3 separate regions of the Homo sapiens genome follow, and all the other regions are reported to be linked to region 1. The links are microRNA targets in miRTarBase. Many come from high-throughput screens and were not tested one by one. Region 1 holds a microRNA gene; each other region holds the end of a gene's coding sequence. Distances are from middle to middle.
Evidence for each region. Region 1 holds the annotated microRNA hsa-miR-4793-3p (UCUGCACUGUGAGUUGGCUGGCU, at 2,383-2,405, shown strand). A microRNA usually pairs through its seed, bases 2 to 8, with sites in the 3' UTR of a target mRNA and lowers its output. Matches are read on the target gene's strand: a 7mer-m8 pairs with bases 2 to 8, a 7mer-A1 pairs with bases 2 to 7 and ends in A, and an 8mer does both.

Region 1 (4,149 bases):
TTGTGCAGAGTGACAGAGCCACAGGCTGACAGACACAGAGCCACACACAGGAGGGATCCATGAGCCAGGTACAGACAGACCAAAGGGCTGACAGAGACAGACAAGGACAGGCTGACTGATGGGGGTAGGAGGGAGGGCAATCAGAGGCAAACAGTTGCAGGTCCCCTGGAGCTGCTCAGCCCCTCAGCAGCCCAGCAGAAGCTGGAGGGATTCTTAGAAACAGCTTCCACTCTGGGGACATCCCAGACCCTGGGTCAGCCCTGGCGAGTGGCATGAAGACGGGGTGAGGCAAGCAGGCTGAGCATGGGGAGGTCAGCAGTGCGTAAGCCCAGATGGGTGTCTCCCCAGGCTTCCTCAGAACCCCGTCATGAACTCCCCGGTGGTCAGCGTGGCTGTGTTCCACGGACGCAACTTCCTAAGGGGAATCCTGGAGTCCCCCATCAGCCTAGAGTTTCGCCTGCTACAGACAGCGAATCGGAGCAAGGCGATCTGTGTGCAGTGGGACCCACCTGGCCTGTGAGGACCCCCATTCTGGAAACCCTTGGTCCCGTTAGCCCTTGGGAGGCCAACTAATAGTCCCAGCCTTCCCCTGGGGCCCCCACTAGTGCTGTTGTGCAACCCGGACCATGAGGAATGCTGTACCCCAACTCCAGGCACCCTCAGCCCTTCCCATGATCTCTCACAAACCCCTGCCTGACACTGGGTCACAGTTGTGTCTAACTGCCCTGTGGCTGCAGGGCGGAGCAGCATGGTGTGTGGACAGCACGGGACTGCGAGCTGGTGCACAGGAATGGGTCCCACGCACGGTGTCGCTGCAGCCGGACAGGGACCTTTGGGGTCCTCATGGATGCCTCTCCCCGTGAGGTGGGGCTGTGTTCAGTGTCCCAAGGAAGTGGGGGGTCAAAGGGACACGGGGATTCTGCCCAACAACCCATCAACCATCCCTGTCTCTGTAGAGGCTGGAGGGCGACCTGGAGCTGCTGGCTGTGTTCACCCACGTGGTCGTGGCTGTGTCTGTGGCTGCGCTGGTGCTGACTGCAGCCATCCTGCTGAGCCTGCGCAGCCTCAAGTCCAATGTGCGTGGGATCCATGCCAATGTGGCAGCCGCCCTGGGGGTGGCAGAGCTCCTCTTCCTGCTGGGGATTCACAGGACCCACAATCAGGTGCAGGATCAGGGCCAGGGAACTTGTGTCCTGATGACCCTACTGGCCCAGGAGGCCTGGGGCCAAAACTCAGGGTCAGAGGTCAGGGATGCTCAGGTTGGGGCCAGGGTTTTCAGCAGGATGCTGGGGTAAGATATTGTGGTTTAGGGGTGAGAGGTGGGAAGCAGATGCCTGGGGTAGGGGTCAGAGGTGGGTGAGGCAGGAGAGGTCCTGACACGCCCCCCTGCCCTCAGCTGGTGTGCACTGCAGTCGCCATCCTCCTGCACTACTTCTTCCTCAGCACCTTCGCGTGGCTCTTCGTGCAGGGGCTGCACCTCTACCGCATGCAGGTTGAGCCACGCAACGTGGACCGCGGCGCCATGCGCTTCTACCATGCCCTGGGCTGGGGCGTCCCTGCTGTGCTGCTGGGTGAGGGCTGTGACCCCCAACCTCCAACCATCACATGGCCTGACCCCTGACCCTGTCCCCACTCCTGCTCATGACCCCCAACCTCAAACCCCAAGCCATCTATTCATGGGGTTGCTGCTCTGCCCTCACCCATGCTTTCTCCCATACATGGGCTGGTCAGCAGCTCTGGAACACACACCCTCAGTCCTACCCTTTCTCTTCCCAAGGCCTTGCTGTGGGCCTGGACCCTGAGGGCTATGGGAACCCTGACTTCTGCTGGATCTCAGTCCACGAGCCCCTCATCTGGAGCTTTGCTGGCCCTGTTGTCCTGGTCATAGTGGTGAGTGCCCTGGACTTGGTGCCCCCTCTGTACTTCCCTCCCTCATTGGGGGAGGAGGTGCAGTGGACTCAGCTGAGGGCGGTCAGGTGGCATTCTGCAGGCTTCCTGGGCTCGGCCTTCATTTTTTCTGTCCTCTGGTCAGTAGCCACCCCCATTCAACTGGCATGGAGATGGGGGCGCGGGGTCAGAGATTCAGTTGCCTGTCCCTGCCTCTGTCTCTGCTTCTCTCTCTCAGTCCCTCTCTGGTTCCCAATTTCTTTTTCTGTGATGCTAAGCTCCTTTGGTGTGTGTGTATATGTGTGAATTTCTCACTGGTTCTGCCTCTCTCCGTGAATCTTAGTCTCTCTCTGTCTCTCATTGCCTCTCTCTCTCTCTCTCTCTCTGCCCTGCCCGGCCCCACATGTCTGGCCGTGGGTCCAGATGAACGGGACCATGTTTCTCCTCGCTGCCCGCACATCCTGCTCCACAGGGCAGAGGGAGGCCAAGAAGACCTCTGCACTGTGAGTTGGCTGGCTGGAGGAAGGGGGCTTCTCAGGATGGCAGGTCCCTCCTGGGTGGGGTCTGGGGCCCCCAGATCTTCCCTGGTGCAGGTTGGGCTCCAAGTTCTAGATGAAGGAATGAAGTCACACCTGCCCTGACCTGTGGTCCCTCTCTGGCGCCCTCGCTATACTGTAGCCCCACATGTGCTTCTGCCCTGCTGTCTCTCCTTGTCCTCTGGGTCCCCCCAGAGTCTCCCATGGCCTGGGTGGCTCACTTTGCCCCCTGCCCTGTGTGTTCCCACCTGTCTTCCGTGCCCTCCCTTGTGGCTCCCATACCCCTGTGTTTTCCCCACGTGTCCTCATGGCTCTTTGACTGCTCTCCTGTTTCTTTGTGGGACCTCCCATCTCCCCCAGTGTCCTCCAGAGACCTCCATGTTCCCGTGTGAGTTCCTTTTTTTCACGTTTCGTGTGTGGCCCCTGTGTGTCCTCCCGTGTTCCCTGCATGAGTCCTACATGAGCCTTGCATGTCCTCCTGTGTCTTCCCATGTCCCCACAGCAGGACCCTTCGCAGCTCCTTCCTGCTGCTTCTGCTGGTCAGTGCCTCCTGGCTCTTTGGGCTCCTGGCAGTCAACCACAGCATCCTAGCCTTCCACTACCTCCATGCTGGACTCTGCGGCCTCCAGGTGACTCTGGTGCCCCTCCCTTGCCCCAGAACCAGGTGGGCCTTCAGTAGGCTGGGGCCATCCCTAGGCAGACGTTGACCCTAGGCCTGGAGCTGACTCTTACTGGATAACTTTGCCAGGCTGGGTACTACCCCAGACCAGACACTGGCCCTAGCTGCTGCCCCCAGGCCTGGAGCTGACTCTAACTTAGGCACTGATCCCAGACTGAGTGCTGATCTTGGATCGACCTTCACCAACACCAAGGCTCCCGACCCCTTGCTGATCCACACCGACCTTACAGACTCCAGCCACTCCTGCTGCTCCATCCTCTCCCCTGCTGACCTTCCCCAACTCCCTTACTGAGTCCCGCATGGGCTCCTCACTGACCCACACTAGCCTACAGTGACTGACCCCATTGCTGACCCACAGTGACTTATACTGGTCCCTGATTGATCCCTGCCGACTCTGCTTTGACCCTCGCTGACCCACAGGGCCTGGCGGTGCTGCTGCTCTTCTGTGTCCTAAATGCAGATGCTCGGGCTGCCTGGATGCCAGCCTGTCTGGGCAGGAAGGCAGCGCCTGAGGAGGCAAGGCCAGCACCTGGGCTGGTGAGTCGGGATGGGGGCCCTGAGAAGCCAGAGTTTTAGGCTGCTTCAGGGTTAGCTCACACTCTGTCCCTACCACCCCCAGGGACCTGGGGCCTACAACAACACGGCTCTCTTTGAGGAGAGTGGCCTCATCCGCATCACTCTGGGCGCCTCCACCGTCTCCTCTGTGAGCAGTGCCCGCTCCGGCCGGACCCAGGACCAGGACAGCCAGCGGGGCCGCAGCTACCTCAGGTGAGAGGAAGAGCCTCCTTGTGAGGGAACACTCAGCTTAGTCCAGCCCCACCTTACCAGGGCTTGGCTGACCAGGTCCTAGGGCGGGTGGCTCCACCCATCTTGGCCATCTGGGGCCCTGCTTCTGCCTCTGCCCTAAATGCTTCCCACCACACACACCCAGGGATGCCATTCCACCCGCAGCTGGCTGTGCACTCAAAGACACTCCAGCCTCCAAGGCACCCCATCACATCCCTCTTTCATGGTGGGGGGGCTCCTGCTTTTCCAGGGACAATGTCC
Region 2 (4,000 bases), not on the chromosome of region 1:
AAAAATATACTCTTGTGACATGAAAACAACCAGCTTTGTAGTTCATTTCTAAGTCAACTGATAGCATTCTGGACTCTTGATTTGTTTTTCAAAATATTTCCTTTAAATGACAGCCTTACTCTGTGCCTGTTTCCCTGACAGGGGTCAAGACTTGTGGTCTGGATTTTTATTATTTGGCCTCTTCACATACTCCTTAAAGTGTGTGCAAAGCCAGGGCAAAGTACAGTGAGTGCGCTGAATAGGGAATCAGGAGGAGACATTTGGCAGCTTTCCTGCAGAAGCTTAAGCCATCTCAGAGTCTAATGAATATCCATGATGGATGAGGAGATGGCAACAGAGGCATTAGTACTTACTTACTGTTAGGCCAATTGTGGATTAAAGTTTTATTGAATTTTTTCAGTTGTGGAATGATAGCTATTTTTATAATCTGAATTGATTAAAAACTTACCTTATTTAGAAGAATTTGGTCTGTTTTCCGTTTATTTAAGGGCTTTGGAATTTGTTACTGAAAGATGAAAAAAGGTTTTCATTAGAATTTGTTAGTGAAACAAAATCAAGAATCACCCCTCTCTTCCCCAGAGTTCCAAGTAACATGGTCTTGCCCATGTTAGACACATGCTATGTCTTTCTCATCTAATCTCTTTTAATGTAATTTGCAGGAAAGTGCAGATCACCTTGCACATGAAGTGAGCTTGGCAGTATTTCAGCTGGCTGGAGGAATTGGAGAAAGGCCCCAACCAGGTTTCTGAAGATAATTTTCATATTCCTGAGAAACTGGACTTTTTACAAGTCTTTACAAAACTGTCAATAATAATGGCAGTACTAAGAGATTTATAATCATAATGTTTACAATGCAGCCTACTGGATTGTCTCTAGATCTGTTTTTCTTAAACACTAACAGAATAATTCTTTATAAATAGGTAAGCCTTACACTTGTTAAAGAAATTTACCTCTAATTTCAGTCTCACTAATGTAAAATACTGGGACTTAAGTATACAATTCAGTCACTAACTGTACAGTTTTATGTGGGGAACAATTCATGCAGGCTACTGGAAAATTAAATCTTATTACCAACTCCTTGTGATATCTTTGCCATCACCATCACATGAGCAAGATGATGTTTTGCAGCATTCCCCATTGCTGATACAAATGGAGAGGGCAGAGAAGACTTTATACAACCAGTTTTTCCATTGCAGAGTCTTAAGAAAGATTATTAGATGACTTACCTATATGACTAATGCCATCAGGAACTCAGAGGTATGAATAGGGGGTTGTCCATCCCTCTTCCATACTGAGGTGGAGATGCTCATGCAATACTTTTAAGGATGCATGGTCCAGCCTTCAGTTATTCTTCACTGCTCTTGGTGAAGGTATGTGGGAGAAAAACTAATTATAATACGTTTCCCAGCCTCTGATGGAGAAGGAACACCATTCTGATACCAGAACATGGTTAATAAGGAAAAGAGAAAAATCCCCAACCAATCTTAATTGAACCAAGTCTGAAACCAATGGAAAAAAAAAATGGGTAGTGTATATTTTGCAGGTTTAAGACAACTCAGGACAATAAAAACAATGGACTTTACATGTGTATATATATAGCTCTCTTAGGCACCATAATCAGTATGAGCCAACAATATTTAAACTTGATTCAGGCCACATTCAGACATTTGCTCTTATATACAAATATTTAAATTAAATACAATCTGAAATGTGTTCTGTTACATACAAAAAAGGAAAAACTATACAACGCAGAGCAGTGTGTGTGTTTTAAATAATTACATTTACATGTAAGCTAAATGGAACCAGCAATGGTGCTCAAGTTTTTATCATCCCTTCCAGAAAATCTTTTTCTACCATCTCTTCTATTTTTTGCCTGGCTTTGCTGGAACATGGTTTGTGGTTCTCCAGTTTCATGTCCTTATTAGGGAAGGCATTTGAGTAGAGGATAGGACTCCCTGAGTGTCCTCCACATCGGCTTGTGACTTTGCTGTTGAAGACTTGACTGAGCACATTGAAGAACGGCAGGAGCTGCTCCATACTGCGCACGGTGCAGATGGTGAGCAGCAAGTGCCCTGGCTCCCAACCCAATGTTCTCCCTGAGTTGTCTTCCTCTGGATTTTTCTGCAGAAAACAAAAAGTGAACTGGTATTAATACAACAGACAATGTGGTATGTTAGAAAAATTAAAAATATATAAACTTTGGCAATTGGTCAAGAAATGAATACAAATGACATTAAGTTTCTAACTCCTGACCTGATCAAAACCCTTGGTGCTTCTGAGACCTTTTACTGCCATTTATTAGTTTTACATGGAGCAGTCTAACATTGTAGTAATAGTTCCCAACTAGAATGCGCAGATAAGCTTAGTTAACAGAAATAGCTTTGAACAGGAATAGAGTCAAACATAAAAGTTTTATGTTGTGCTTTGTATTTACTCAAAAAGCTCCCAGGTTTCTGAACCCTCACTACTGTAACCAAGGACTAGGTCACAAAATTACTACAGAAAAAAGGAACAAAGTGCTTTATACATTTCATAATATATCCCCTTTTATTATAATTAGTTAATTCCCTTTTATCTAAATGGCCTAAATTTGCCATGATGGTAGCAGTGTCCAAAGTGAATAATTACTGTCAGTACTGCATCACAGAGAAAGGAAGGGATCCCTCAGGAGACACTGCTGTCTCCTTCTGGGTTGTGCTAAACAACATAGGGAGGAAAGCTGGACCTGGAGTCAAAGGAATTGAGTTAGTGTGCTGGCTCTGCCATACTTACGGCACCCTTGGGCAGGATATACAAAGGTTCCTCACTTATAAAATGGGACAGTCTAAAACTACCTTTTAGTAGAGAAGTCAAATGAGAAGGTATGTGAAAACTCTGTCAACTAAATATAAAGACTAATAATTTGGGTATTAAGAGGCTAGTTTGAGAAGCCACCTGAATTACACAAACACAGCTACAGACATCATTCTGTCTAGAGAAAGATAAGAGAGAACAGGTTGGTTGAACTTGGGCAGAATCACAGATACAATTCCACACTAAAGAATGAAAATAAGCAATGAACTAGACAGAAGGAAGAAATCATGAAGACTTAGGAAGCAGAATTACAATCTGTCATATTAACAAATGGAGTTTGCCTTCTAAGATCAGATGTTGCTCAGAAACTTTCATTGTTTACCTAATAATTTAATATCACTAGTTTCCTAGTGGGTCAAGCAGATGCAAAATCCAGCTTATTTTCTTCTATGTGCTCTCAAGCTTATTGCTTATTTTAAAGTAAAATCCTGAAAAAGGAAAATATTAGGTTGGTGCAAACGTAATTGCGGTTTTTGCATTGTTGAAATTTGCCGTTTTATATTGGAGTACATTCTTAAATAAATGTGGTTATGTTATACATCATTTTAAGCATATTTCTCACTTTTTTTTTGCTAATGACTTATTGCTGTTTATATTTATTTTAGACTATGGAAATGATGTTAGACAAAAATCAAATTTAGCGATTTTCTGAGTTCAAAATAGGTTATAAAGCAGCAGAGACAACACACAACATCAACAATGCATTTGGCCCAGGAACTGCTAATGAACATACAGTGCCGTGATGGCTCAAGAAGTTTTGCAAAGGAGACTAGAGCCTTGAAGATGAGGAGTGCAGTGGCCAGTCATCGGAAATTGATAATGACCAATTGAGAACATCATCGAAGCTGATCCTCTTACAACTATAAGAGAGCTGCCCAAGAACTCAATGTTGACCATTTTATGGTCGTTCGGCATTTGAAGCAAATTGAAAAGGTGAAAAAGCTCAATAAATGGGTGCCTCATGAGCTGAGTGAAAAATAAAAAAATTCGTTGTTTTGAAGTGTCATTTTCTCTATTCTATGCAACAATAATGAATCATTTCTCTATCGGATTGTGATGTGTGCCAAAAGGTGGATTTTATACGACAACTGGCGATGACCAGCTCAGTGGCTGGACTGAAAGAAGCTCCAAAGCACTTCCCAAAGCC
Region 3 (4,000 bases), 120 Mb from region 1:
AAGGATTTTTTTATATGCATGTATCACAGTTATTACAATTTGGGAAAATTCTGCCAATATATTTTCAGGCAATTAGCTTTAAAATAATGAAATTTCAGCTTTTAGCACAAATAGCCCTGAGAACAATGCATTCAAATTACAGCTCAACTAGAAATATTCTAATTGAGAAACCTTAAAGTACAAAAACAAGTTGTGGAAAGTTGTAAATTTAAAAAAAAAAAGTTACCAACAGTTGAGGCACCAACAGACTACAATACTTTTAAGAGTTGGGAGTTTGGAAAAAAGAACTAACATATAAAGTTATGTGCGCACATGTGCACATGCAAATTGCATTGTAATGAAAAATTGTGTCTCCAAATTTTACAGCCTAATCATTTTATTGCAGTATCTCCTATTATAGATATCATGCTCTGATGCAGGAGAGTTTTGGTAATTAACATAAAGCGCTGGTACAGAGACTTGTATCATTAAGGGAAACAGAGTCAAGAGCTTGGTTAGCAACAGTTTCTTCAAGTGACTGAGCCCCTGGAAGGGAGCATGAAAAAAACATCATAATTATGTTTATGATGCAAATGCTAAGTCAAAGTAGCAATGATATGATCTATGTTGTAGCAAATAAGGTATAACAAAGTCTTCACAGTATAAATAAAATGTTCTAAAAAGAAACAAATATTCAACCTGTTAATAAATTGGTGAAATGTATACAGATAAAAATGGCTTATCACTGTACAATGATATCAACATGACAGTCCACATTCTATACATGGTAACTCGTGATTTTTAACATTTGCTACAAAAAAGTACAACAAATATTGGGAATCAACTTTAACATTTCTGATGTCTAAAAAGAATGAAGTCACTTCTGTTCTATGTTAAAAAATACATGTTCCCCGCTTCCTTTTAATATAATTTATAAAGCTTTACTAAATATTTTGTTCTAGAGAAACATCTATTGACTTATGTGAAAATAAAGTCCCATATCTTTAAAATCTATACTTATATATCGAGTATTTACACTTCATATATTACTTAAAATGAAAATATTTATGCATAAATAGCGTTTGCCATTCAAAGTATGAAGATAGAGATGCATTATTATAATTTGTACACCCTTAATTTGTACACAATTGAAAATATATTTATGTGAAATTTTACAAGTTAGGAAGAACAGGGGCATGCTAATTGAGAGTTAATACTGAATCATAACACCAGCATGGTTAAGAGGGGCCATATGAATGAACTGCAAGCAGCACGGATTAATAATTTTCTGGAATTCCTATGAGTTACAATGCCAACCAGTAGCAATTAAGATACACATTACAGAGTACTAAGAAACTAGAGCAGTATGTAGTAGGTACTTAAATAGAATACTGGAAAGAATGTAGCCTAATTTTAATTGTGCTTTAGATGGGCAAAAGCTAAAATGTTGTAGGAAAGACGACTAACTACTACCTCACTATTTCTTGTGCTTTAGAAATTTCCTTTGTATTTCTCTTAAAGTATCTTGCTTCTTCCCCAAATTGGTTTGCCGAGGCTAAGACAATATTTAAAAGTGTGTACAAATTAAGCAACTAAAACTTGGGATCTTCTGTTACTAATGCTATTTCCAGTCACTGATTAGATCAGTTACATCATCATATATGATATACTTTCCTTTAGAAGATAGGAACAAAGGGCTTTTTAGAGGTCAAGGCATGATGGGAGAGGTCTAAGAGCCAGTCTTAGAGAATTAAGGTATTTCTGAGATAGTGATTTTGTTCTATGTTTTGCTCCAATATGATGATTGTCACTGAGTCAAAGGTCCTCACAAACCCTGTAATAATGTCTAAAATTCTGGAAATAATATACATATGACTCAAAAGATGAAATAGAAATGCAGTGGTGTCACCTAAAATACCTTTTAAAATAATTCAGTTTATAGAATTATTTGCTAGTTATAGTTCACACCAGCAACTGAATTAAGTCACACAACAATCAGAAAAAATGCATATACTTAAAATAACTTAACTTAAATAATAATATTCATATAAAGTAATGCTGCTTCCATGATTCACTTTAATTCACTTTAGGAAAAAAAGGACATAAAATTAACAAAAATTCCAAATCAATTTAAGGAATTCTCAGTTTTTGTTTAATAAATACATTAATGTCAAAAAATCTACTTAGAAATGGTTGGAAAGGGGCTGGGTGTGGTGGCTCATGCCTGTAATCCCAGCACTTTGGGAGGCTGAGGCAGGTGGATCACCTGAGGTCAGGAGTTCAAGACCAGCCTAGACAACATGGTGAAACCCCATCTCTACTAAAATACACAAAAAAGTAGCTGGGCGTGGTGGCATGCACCTGTAGTCCCAGCTACTTGGGAGGCTGAGGCAGGAGAATTGCTTGAACTCGGGAGGCAGAGGTTGCAGTGAGCCGAGATTGCACCACTGCACTCCAGCCTGGCTGATGGAGTGAGACTCAGTCTCAAAAAAAAAAAAAAAAAAAAGGAAGTTGGAAAGGAGTATTTACTGATAAATATTACTATTTATTCAACATAGTTGGAAAACAAGCATTGCATAGTATCATGTAAAGCAGATCACTCCCTTTAAACGTTGGGGGCAAAGTTAAAAGCAAAAACAACTGAGAAACAACTTTTCATTTTTATGCTGACTTACAAAGTCCTCACATAAAAACTTATAGATTTAATCAACCCTCTTTGCCACTGTCTTTTGTGTCTTCCTTATAATCTTACTTGCTAACTAACTTTCACCCAACAGTTCAGTGCCCTTCTGCCAACCATAAGAAGGGACTAAAACCACCATATAAGGTTACATCAAGTTTGCCAACAATTTGGTAAATAGTATGACCAAAGTAATCACATGGTTGCATGTGGCCACCAAAATAACTGACAGTTTTTGATAACATGATTTTTGTTTAAGGATTTGTGTTTGCCCTACACAGGCTGAAAGTGCAACAATTCCAATATATAATCAGTTCATTTTATATTAAATCTGTAATTAATGCAGAGCAGTTCAACTTAAATATGGTACTTCAATACCACTTTATGCTACATTGTTTGATTTAAAACCCTGGTTTATCATCTAACTAAAACACAGGAATGATTTGCTCAGACAAATCACATCTGCTGAAGCTATCTTGTTTGTTTCTTGGACTGACATACTGAAAACCACAGGAATATTATAGGAAACATATCTACAAAATTCAAAAAAAATTATACATATTGATAATTTTTTAAAAATTATCAATTGCTTGCAAAACTAACCCAGCACAATCTGAAAACAATTAAAAAAAGAAATGAGGTTGCTTATGAAGGCTATAGCTTTGGTGACAACTTAGAACCAAATTAGATCTGCAGTTGATTCAGACATAAACAGTGTTCATGCCTGATGTTTCCGTTTATTTGCAGGGTTTTATGGCTACAGCATATTCTTCACTCATTGCACACATGACAGACACCTAGAAGGAAAAAAGCAGGCAAAACGTTATTCAGAAGACAATACATATAGAAGATATAATTAGTTCCTCATATATTGTATATTTGTGGATATTTTGTACATATGGACTTCTGAAAGGGGTATTCCAAAACAAGCTACTTTCTTTACAGTTTTCTAAAGCAGAATTTCTCAGAGTGGTTTGTAAGACAACTTCCAGGGAACAGGAAAAATAACTATAAATGTTTGAACACTTACTACCCGTTACATTTCTGAAAGTTGTAACGAAGACAGTAAATCTCCTTCACTCTTTAACATTCCACTAGCATCATTTCTTACCTGTAAGAATAGCTCAGGGCTGGGCGCCTTGCTCAGGCCTGTAATCCCAGCACTTTTGGGAGGCCAAGGTTGGGGGATCACCTGAGGTCAGGAGTTCAAAACCAGCTTGGCCAACATGCTGAAACCCAATCTTTACTAAAAATACAAAAATTAGCCAGATGTGGTGGCACGCGCCTGCAATCCCAGCTACTCAGGAGGCTGAGGGGAGAATCGCTTGAACCTGGGACGCG

Region 2: the mRNA of PGM3 is a reported target of hsa-miR-4793-3p. Seed matches in the 3' UTR shown: 7mer-A1 at 2,048-2,054 and 7mer-m8 at 3,643-3,649.
Region 3: miRTarBase lists EIF5A2 as a target of hsa-miR-4793-3p. Seed matches in the 3' UTR shown: 7mer-m8 at 2,427-2,433.

What each region holds. Positions count from the first base shown.
Region 1 is chr3:48,642,457-48,646,605 of GRCh38, reverse strand. MIR4793 (microRNA 4793) reads left to right here and starts at 2,326; the gene lies at 2,326-2,412. CELSR3 (cadherin EGF LAG seven-pass G-type receptor 3) reads left to right here. Exons shown (of 35, transcript NM_001407.3): 22 at 349-516; 23 at 738-864; 24 at 957-1,163; 25 at 1,397-1,571; 26 at 1,778-1,890; 27 at 2,311-2,390; 28 at 2,929-3,052; 29 at 3,523-3,639; 30 at 3,722-3,870; 31 at 4,139-4,149.
Region 2 is chr6:83,165,983-83,169,982 of GRCh38, reverse strand. It overlaps PGM3 (phosphoglucomutase 3), which reads left to right. Exons shown (of 13, transcript NM_015599.3): 13 at 660-4,000. The coding sequence ends at 749. It overlaps DOP1A (DOP1 leucine zipper like protein A), which reads right to left. Exons shown (of 39, transcript NM_015018.4): 39 at 1,512-2,121. The coding sequence ends at 1,816. Among named protein-coding and RNA genes, the nearest start is that of PGM3, 25 kb to the left of the region's middle.
Region 3 is chr3:170,889,964-170,893,963 of GRCh38, forward strand. It overlaps EIF5A2 (eukaryotic translation initiation factor 5A2), which reads right to left. Exons shown (of 5, transcript NM_020390.6): 5 at 1-3,456. The coding sequence ends at 3,397. Among named protein-coding and RNA genes, the nearest start is that of EIF5A2, 17 kb to the right of the region's middle.